Linked DNA regions of Homo sapiens: region 2 is linked to region 1. The links come from fine-mapping of genetic effects on gene expression. Tissue or cell type: gastroesophageal junction. Region 1 holds a variant in brackets; the other region holds the start of a gene. All regions are shown on one strand. Distances are between the middles of the regions.

Evidence for each region. PIP is the estimated chance that this variant, and not a neighbour inherited with it, causes the effect.
Region 2: BTBD16 starts here. The variant in region 1 is fine-mapped to the expression of BTBD16 in gastroesophageal junction (GTEx, PIP 0.99). The same link has a PIP of 0.9 or more in skeletal muscle.

Annotation. Positions count from the first base shown.
Region 1 is chr10:122,341,838-122,347,047 of GRCh38, reverse strand. It overlaps the pseudogene RNU6-728P. Among named protein-coding and RNA genes, the nearest start is that of PLEKHA1, 30 kb to the left of the region's middle. The variant C/T (reference allele first, on the strand shown) is at 2,687.
Region 2 is chr10:122,269,196-122,274,301 of GRCh38, reverse strand. BTBD16 (BTB domain containing 16) reads right to left here and starts at 3,006. Exons shown (of 16, transcript NM_144587.5): 1 at 2,788-3,006.

The sequences.
Region 1 (5,210 bases):
GGCTCTACATTTCTCCCAGCCTGTCCTCCTGTGGAGTCCTAATTAGGGAAAAGGAGTCAGGCTGGTGGGAGCAAAGGAAAGCAAAAAGAAGAGGCAGGTAAGCCGCAAATCTGCCTTTCTTCATGGCCCAGAACAGGTACCCCTCGTGCACCCAGCTTATCACCAGACACCTGCAAGTTGGCTCACTGCAACCTTGCATTATTAGTATTGCACAAAGCCCTCTTCGGCATATAGCATAAGCATTATTCTATAAAATCTCCAGCCAGCCTTTGTTTCCTTGCAGTCAGCTCCTCTTCTGCTGGCCTGCCCATTGCCTTCTCACTACATAGTTTCATACTTTCTCTAGTAAATTTGCCTTTCATTATCTACAACTGTCTTGGTAAATTCTTTTACCCCTGCATCACTGGTCCAGATAGTCATTGCTCACCCACAACACATCCCACACCATGTTGACACCTGGCATTCTTTCCCAAGCCCCCCTCACCTCTGCTGACAAACAGCATCTAGAAAAACTTTTTCAAAACCCAGGTTTCATCAGGGTGGCCCCAGGCCTGAAACTCTTGAATACTAGGTGGTCTTGAGAAAGAGACCAAAATCCAGGGATGTCCCAGCTGCCCACATCTCCAGCCTCTGCTGCTGGCTCTGCTGGCTCTGCCCACTGGGGCCTTCTCCCGTGTTTTTTAAAGGTACCAGGCTCACTTTCACATGTTGTCTGGGCTTGAATCTTCTCCTGAGCCCCCAATTCCTCCTTTTTTTTTTTTTTCAAAAAAGCCCCAGTTTTATTGAGATAGAATTAATGTATCATACAATTCGCCCACTTAAGTGTACAGTTTAGTGGTTTCCAGCATATTCACAGAGTTGTCCAGCCATCACCATTGTTCAATTTTAAAACATTTTCATCACCTGAAATGGAAACCCTGTGCCCTTTAGTGGCCATCCTCTTATCTTCCAGCCCTAAGCAACCACGAATCTACTTTCTGTCTGTAGACATTCCTCCTCTGGACATTTCGTATGAATGGAGTTATATAATACGTGTTTTTCTGTGACTGCCTTCTTTCACTTAGCATGATCTTTTTAAGGTTTATCCATGTAGCACGTGCCAGTCCTACATTCCTTTTTAGGGCTGAGTAATGTTCTATTGCATGGATAGACCACACTTTGTTTATCCATGCATCCACTGATGGACATTTAGGTTGTTTCCATTTCTCTTTTTTTCTTTTTCTTTTACTTTTTTTTTAATTTAAAAAATTTATTAAAAACATGGAACATTTCACAAATTTGTATGTCATCTTTTTGCAGGGGTGATGCTAATCTCTGTATCATTCCAATTTTAGTATATCTGCTACCAAAGTGAGCATTTTATTTTATTTTTTGTAAAGGACGGTCTCATTCTGTCACCCAGGCTGGAGTCCAGTAGTGTGATCATGGGTCACTGCAGACTCCACTTCCTGGGCTCAAGTGATCCTCCCACCTCAGCCTCCCAAGCAGCTGGGACTACAGGCATGAGCCAACCCCCTTTCTACAGGCGCCTCACCCCTTTTGCAGGTGCACGCCATCGCTCCTGGCTAATTTCCATGTTTTGCCTGTTGTGAATAATACTGCTACGAACATTCGTGTTCACGTTTCTGGGAGGGCATATATTTTCATTTTCTCTGGGGTATGTAACTAGAGGTGAGAATTGCTGGGTCACATGGTACTGTACGTTAATTGTTTGAGGAGCCACCAGTTTTCCAAAGCAGCTGCACCATTTCACCCTCCCACTAGCAGCATATGAGTAGTCGTTTCTCTACATCCTCACCTAAACCTGTTTCAATTCCCACTCCGACTTCAGCTCTCTGTGTAAGCGTTGCTTCCCCTGGGAGGGCTCTCCTTGGGCCTTGATCCCCACACCAGGATCTAGGTCAGCTTTCTTTGCTTTATGCTCTCTGGAAACAGTGCTCCAGGCAACTGTGCTCTTCAGGGCACACAGGCATTCTTTAGTGCATATTCCACTAATAACTGTCTTTCCCCACACACTGTAGGCTCTGAGATGGCGGAGACTGTGTGTTTTGTTCACCTTCACAACCTCACCCGAAGCCTGGCCTGCAGCAGCTCACTGTAAATCTGTGGTGTGAGTAAAGTCAAGGAATGAAAGCACAAAGGTCACATGACTCATTCAAAGTCACAGAGCTCAAAGTCATGAGGAGCAGCCATAGGAGCCCTTTGTCCCACATCTGCCAAGCCCACAGGGCAGCCACTAGCCATTGAGTCCACGGAGCACTTGAAACGCGGCTTGGCCGACTCTGGGCACACCGCCTGTGAGTTAGTGCTCCTCTGCAAGGAGGAGTTAAAAAAAAAAAAAGGAAGAAAGAAACATGGCTAGAGTGACAAAGAGTGAAATTTTAAATTTTATTTCATTTTCATTTATTTAAATTTAAGTGGTTAGCGCAAGTAGAAGGAGCAAGATAAGAATAATATCAATACAGAGCTGAACTCCGCTTCCCCAGCATGGGAACCTTCCTGTTCCACAGCACGACTTTCTCCAGAAAGAAGTCTGAGGTGGCCTCAGGCTGAGCCACAGGCATGGGCACAGCCTGCCACTGAGGCTCCACTCATCGGGGGCCTGGGAAGAGACTGAGAGGCTCGGAACCCTAGAGAGTCTGCAAAGCCAGGAAGCATCCAGTTCTGGTTTCATGTTGGGTGCTGT[C/T]GTTACCTTGCTTCTTCTACTTAAGCTTATGGCAATTTAAATTTAAATTAATTAAAATGAAATAAAATTGAAAACTCAGTTTCTCAGTTAGCTCCAACCCCATTTGAAGTGCTCAAAGGCCACGCATGACTAACGGCTACATCGGATACCACATCGGATACCACATCAGATACCACATCGGATGGAGCAGATGTGGGACATTCCCATCATTGCGGAAAGTTCAGTTGGCTGGTGCTGCCCTCAGGGTCTGTCTCACAGAGGTTTCTTCTGTCTCTCTCTCCTCCAGGAGAACCTCCTTCTATACCCGCCAGCTCTCAAGGCCTCAGGGCCCAGAGGCCCAATTCCCCATATCCTACACCTACCCCCGTGTGCAAGCAGGGCCTGGGACTTCTGGTACCCAGGTCATCCCTGGGAAGCTCACTCTTCTCCCCAACAGCATGGCGAACCCCAAACAGTAGCCTAGGCTTACAAGAGCAAGAACAAACTCTCTCCTCCCCGGTATTACAAGATGCTCCAGTCTCCCGGATGCAAAACCCTATAAAGAGGGGCGAGGAAAAACCTTCTCCTACTCTTTCCAATTCATTCCCATTCTGATGAGCCCACGGGAAAATAAGACAGTTCCTTTCCCCAGATCCTCCTCCTTCTGGTTCACAGGCTCAACAACTCACATCTGTTCTTTCGTATTCACAGAATTTGAGAATCTGATGATTGCAGCTGGAAAGACTGCAGAGAGCACCTGGGTCAACCTTTTCATTTTGCATAAAGGGAAATAGGCCCAGAGAAAGAAAAGGGACTGTCCCAAGATCGCACAGCAACCATTTTGACCTTCAACAAGTACTCCCTGACTCCAAGCAATAAGGGTGAAAAAATAAGGAATAAATTGTATAAAGCACGTATTATGTGGTAGGTGCTTTACAAAAAACATCAACTTATTTAATTTTTACCATGAGTTTGATTGCCTATCTCAGATCAGTCTCTGAGGCTCAGAGAGGTTAGATGGCTTGCCTAAGGCCATACAGCTGATAAGGGGCAGCGCTGAGACTCAAACCCAGGTCAGTTGTACTCTAGAACCCGAAAGACTTGGTGTGCACCAAATGAGTCCAGGGCCATCTCCCCCGTTGGAGGGGAGGGGATAGGAGGTGAGCGGCTAGGAGGTGAGCCAGAAGGGCATCAGGAGAAGTGAACGAGGCGTTTCAGACATGGCACATAAGAGGTTTCGTTAACCAGTGCTCATGGCCACTGCTTTGGGCATTGGGACTTTGGGCTTTAAAATTCAAGTTCTCCCTTGAATCTCTACGAATTTCTCCCTTGTAAGAAAAGCTTGTAAAATTATTTTAAGATTTTTTTGTCTCAAGACTAACACTTCTCAAGTTCAGAGATTTTATGATGTGCATACTGTGGATGTTTGGATAAACAGAGCCTCTCCCAGGACGAACAGCTCCACTTTCAACCACAAAGCAAGGGGACTCCCTGCTGTAAAACGAGTTTTTAGGTTGCAAATTTTTGCCACTAAAATTTTTGAGGTGGACCATGCCCCCTAGTGGAAAGGGGTGGACTGTGAATTATGGCTCACCCACAGGAGGGGCCTCATTACTAAGTTCTGTTTATTTCATATTCTAGGAAATCAGTTTTGCTTTGTTTCGAATCAGCCAGTGTGGTGAAATCAATTCACAGGTTTTTTGTTATTGTTTGGATTTTGTTTTGGCACTGGGTAAGGAAGACAATTGGGTGTATGGAGCACAGTAAGAAACCCTGCTGTGGAATTGACACACAGATCAGTTTCTGGATGTGATCCACAGACACCCTGCATCAGCATCCCCCAGGAAGCCTGTTATAGTGCAGATTTCTGAGTGTCTCTCAGACTTCAAAATCAGCCTCTCTCAGCCGGGGCCCAGGATCTGCGCAAGCACAAAGTCCCAGGTAATTCAGATGCATATTCAGTCCTAGAGCCATGAGGCTGGAACACCACCTGTGTACCGTTTCCCTCCATCCCCACCTACAAGGACAGCCCCCCATCCTTCCAGGCCCAGGTACGTGCCACTCTCCCACCCTTGCCCCTGCTCAAGTCCCCATCATAATCGAATGAGATATCATATGAGGCACACCCTGCACACCGCAGCCAGGCGCGTAGCATATGCTCCGTGCGCATTGCTTTTGAACAGATAGGTGTTCAAGAAATACTTGAATGAAACACCCTAAAACATTTCCACTCTTCTCAGTGGGCCATCAGGGGAAATAGAAACAGATAGGCCTGTGGCCAGGCCTGAGCTGGACTCCCAACTCTGCCACACTGAGGAGACTTGGATGAATAAATTTACTTTCTCTGGGCCCAGACTGGAGTGCAGTGGTGCAATCTCAGGTCACTGCAACCTCCACCTTCCTGGTTCAAGCAATCCTCCCACCTCAGCCTCCCAAGTAGCCGGGATCACAGACATGCATCACCAAACCCAGCTAATTTTTGTATTTTTAGTAGAGACAGGGTTTCACCATGTTGGCCAGGCTGGTCTTGAACTCTTAACCTCAG
Region 2 (5,106 bases), 73 kb after region 1:
TTTTCAATCCAGATTCTCAGCAAGAGGCCCCAACTGGCCTGGCTTAGCTCAGGGGCCCACTCTTTGGCCCCTGAGGGCAGACACCTTGACTAATTCTCCCAACAAGAACGTGCACTGGGGACTGGGTAGTTCCCCAGAGCAACATCAGAGAAGAGGAGAAGTGGGTGAGCTGGTGAAACCAGCAGAAGCCACGGCACTTGATGACCAAGAACCTCAGCTGACCTCCCTTTGCTCCCCAAACAGCACTTCACCTGCATCACAGCCATGGCTATGTTCATCCATTCACCAACAAGCATCTCCTGTGCAGTCGCCATATGGAGAGAGGCGTTAGCCGTTTCTGAGAGACAGCAGTGAGCAAAATGCACACGATCCTTGCCTCATAGAATTTCCATTCCACTTGGGCAGACAGGTTTTTCTTTGCCTTTTAATTGCCTTAATTGGACTTTTTAATTGCAAAAGTATTAATAATATATGCTTGTTGTAACTAGTGAACCAATACAATGACAGGAAAGAAAAATTTAACATAGCTGCATAATATCACTTTTTCTTTTTTTGAGACAGGGTCTTGCTCTGTTGCCCAGGCTGGAGTGCAGTGGTGTGATAAAGGCTCACTGCAGCCTCAATCTTCTGGGCTCAAGTGATCCTCCCACTTCAGCCTCCCCAGTAGCTGGGACTACAGGTGTCCGCTACCACACCTGGCTAATTTTTTAATTTTTCTAGAGCCAGGGTTGCCCAGACTGATCTATATTGCCCAGACTGGTCTTGAACTCCTGATATCAAGCAATCCTCCTGCCTTGGCCTCCCAAAGTGCCAGGATTATGGGCATGAGACACTGTTTCTGGCCGCATAATATTTCATACAGTGAATGCATCATTATTTATTAAAATATTCCTCTGCCAAGTCATTGAGGTTATTTCCTATATTTTATTCCCATAATAAAAACAATGGGAACAATATGCATACACATTATTATGGCAGTTTGTGTACATGTGTGTATACATATATCTATACATGTTACCTATATCTGCATCTGTATATATATGTATGTATGTGTGTATATATATATATATATATATATATCTTTGTGTTGCTGTTTTTATTTCTATGAAATAGTCTTCCAAGTGGTATAGTTATGTCAGAGATCTGTATCTTCAATTGAAATAGTTAATACCAATTCACTTGCCCCAAAATTGCAGCAATTAACATTCCTATCACCAATTTATAAGTGTTGTCATTTTTTTCACAACATCTTTAGTACTAGGTAGTATCATCGTATTTATTTTTGCCAAGCTGGTGAGTGTCAGATGGTTTCAGATTCTTACTTTAATTTGAACTTTCCTGGCTACCAGTGGGGTTGAGCATTCTTTTATCTATTTATTGGCTGTTTAATTTTTCTTTTCTGAAAACTGCCTAATCATAGGTTTTCCGCAATTTTCTACTGGGTTACTGTAGTCTCACTAGCATTTTTTAAGGAGCCCTCTATGTACTGGGGACACTAACATTTTGTCTGCCATACATGCTGCAGAAGTGTATCATTTGTCTTTTGACTTTGTTTATGGTAAACAAATTGTTTCATTAGTATGAAAATATGTCCTGTGTGTGTGTGTGTGTGTGTGTGTGTGTATTTCCTTTGCCAGTCTCTAATTTGAAAACATATCTGGGGCCAGGCCCAGTGGCTCATGCCTGTAATCCCAGCACTTTGGGAGGCCAAGGCAGGTGGATCACCTGAGGTCAGGAGTTCAAGACCAGCCTAACCAATATGATGAAACCTTGTCTCTACTAAAAATACAAAATTAGCTGGGTGTGGTGGCGCATGCCTGTAATCCCAGCTACTTGGGAGGCTGAGGCAGGACAGTCACTTGAACTCTGGAGGTGGAGGTTGCAGTGAGCCAAACTCTCACCATTGCACTCCAGCCTGGGAAACAAGAGCGAAACTCTGTCTCGAGGGGAAAGAAAAAAGAAAAAGAAACGTGTCTGGGTACAAACATGGCCCTGGTGTTTGTACCCAGCTGCTGGTGTCTTCATCTGCAATTGCATCCATGTATGCATGTGTGTTAAGAGCATCTTTGGCTGTTCAACCAGCTTTCAGAGGTGCACTTGAGTTTACAGCAATGTGTGTTTTCCTTGATGGCTGAGTTTCCACCTTGCGTGAGGCTTCTCCCACCTCAGGTAACACATACATGCTTTTCTGATCCCTTTACCTCACAGGAGCCAGGATGATGAACTCCTCAGCTTAAAGCCCTTCACCAGCTTCCCACTGCCCTAGACATAGACCCCCAAATCCTCAACGTGGCCTTAAGGAATCTGAGAAGAGAGAAGAGGGTTCCATTCTAAAGCAGACCTGGTCAGCACAGAATAAACCCCACACGGGACTCGCTATGCCCACAGAGCACCGCTTCAGTTACAGAGAGAGGGAGGCTGGGGTTTGCACTCAGCTACCCAAAGCTCCTGCTTTCTTAGATCAATATCTAAGAACTTTTTTAGCTGATCTTGAAATCCAGAGACATCTCAATGGCCTGGAAATGTGTTCTTTTTTCATCCCACCAGGCAATCTGCCCCTTCGTGTGTTTTGAGAGCCTGTGCCAAGGTCCCTGTGGGCGGGCAGGAGCTACCTACAATGGTCTCTCAGCTCCCAGACCCCTCCTGATTCCCTAAACTCCCTCCCTGCCAAGTAGACCAGAGGCACCCAAGTCTAACACTGGGTCTAGACAGGTGCTAAGACAGCACCTGTCACTAGGACACATTTCTTGGTCTCTGAAGTGGCTGAAAAATACCCATTGTACTTACCGTTCCAAAGCCCTTTTGCCCACCACAGGCGTGTTTACAGGGGAAGTGTGCTGAGTGGAGGAACTCCCATCACACTGGCCTCTGAGTTACAGGAGAGCTGGGGGCGCCTTCTGAGCCTGAAGCCTGGAAGCGCTCATCACATCTGGGGCTCCCCCTTTTCTTCTTATGGGCCAAGGTGCTTTGACAGGGGGAGCTTGCCTTGGTTTCCTGGGTGGTTGTGAGCACCACGGCAACGGCAGGGAAGCTTCCAAGCACTTCCTGTTCCAGGGCCAGGTTTCAACTCAGGCTCGGGCTGTGTCCAAGGCCCTGGCTGATGGGGAGAAGCTGTGAGTGATGGCATCTCAGAGACCAGTGTGGGTGCCATGTGCCTCCATTCCTGTTCCTCACAGCACCTGGGGCAACCCAGGGCACAGCCTCAGTGAGAACCAACCCCCAAATCTTCAGGCTTCATCTGTCAAAGGAGAAGATTAGACTAGAAGCTTCTCAGATGCCTCCCAGCTCTGGCATTCTGGGGTGCTCTATTTCTAGCATTTTCTATCTGTGTTTTGACAAACATATTTCAATAAAAATTGAGCATTCCGCATTATTAAAAGCTATGCCTAATGAAGTACTTTGCTGATGATGATTTTTAATGCTGCTCTCTCTGGGAGCTAAGGACTGCCTAAAAGTCAAGGACAAGACCAAGAGCCTTCAAGCTGGCATCCAGAGTGGAAATGTTTGGGATTTGTTTGTTTTGTTTTGCTTTTTTTTTTTCTCTGAGATGGAGTCTCACTCTATCGCCCAGGCTGGAGTGCAGTGGTGTGATCTTGACTCACTGCAACCTCCGCCTCCTAGGTTCACCGGGTTCAAGCAATTCTTGTGCCTCAGCCTCCTGAATAGCTGGGATCACAGGTGCCCGCCACCACACCGGCCTAATTTTTGTATTTTTAGTAGAGACAGGGTTTCACCATATTAGCCAGGCTGGTCTCGAACTCCTGACCTCAGGTGATCTGCCCACCTCGGCCTCCCAAAGTGCTGAGATTACAGGTGTGAGCCACCGCACCTGGCCCTAAGTGCAATCTTACAGTGTCCTCAGCGACGTGGCCTGTGAAGCCCATGACCCAAACTAGGGGATGGGGAGGTGGAGGCCATGTGGGTCAGAGTCACATGGGTCACCACGGGTCCATCAAAGGCCTGGACCACCACCCCAGGGATCACAGAAATCCCTAGTTACAGTAATAGGAACCAGGAGGCAGTACAGCTTTTAAGACCCAAGGCCAGCCTCTCCTAGGCCACATACATCCTAAAGTAAAACGGGAAAGTAGCTGCGCTGCCTCCTGTGGCTGTGATCTAGAAACTACGAAACACTCTATAAATGGGAGGTACCCCTGAATTTGTCTCCCGCCTCAGCCCTCAAATCCTGTGATTCTACTCCTCCCAACACCATATTCTGCTTTGCACAGAAGCCGATCGCTGTGGAATGTTCTGTGAGTGGCTTACCCATCTCTGCATCCCCAGAGCCCAGCAACCAAACTTGGACTTTAGAAAGTGCTCAATAAACATCTCTGGAATTGGGTAATTGGATGTCCTAGTCCATAACCACCACTCTGCCTGTGTACCTGCTTGAGTGCCACATGCATAAGTGTGCACATGTGATTATGTATGCATAGGTGTGTGTGTCTGCTTCTGTGTTTGAGTACGAACATGGCCCTGGTGTTTGTACCCACCTATGTCCTCATTTGCAATTGCATCCATGTATGCACGTGTGTTAAGAGCATCTTTGGCTGTTCTAGTAGCTTCCAGAGGTGCACTTCAGCTTAGAGCGATGTCTCTTGGTTGTGCCTTGGATTTTGGGTTTGAGAGTGAGACGACAGGGTTTCATGGTAGTATACAACTGATCCCAGCAACTGCCACCGGGTTGGAGAAGCAGCTGATTGTCAGGCTTTTGGTGTTTAGTAGCAGCAGCAGCAGCTGGTGCTGCAGACAGGATTTGAGGTGGGGCCCAAAGGAGTCCACTGGTGCTCACCTCTCAGCCTAGCTCTTCTGGAGATCAGGAGGTAGGGAGGGACGTGCACAATGAGAGAACCAGTGGGAGAAGAATGTAGGCGACAAGGGGCTGAAGACACTGGCATGTCTTAGACAGGGGGGTTAGGAACCCAGTTCAGGGTCTGCCCACCATCCCTAGACGCTCAGGGGCAGCATGAGACCGGAAGCAGGCCTCTAACAACTGTTGCAGGGGCCTCAGGAGCCAGAGGCCGAGGCTGCATTCCTGAGCCAGGTGTGGGCCCTCTCTCATGCTTGAAAAACAAACACTTGTTGTTAATTTATTTTCCTTTTACA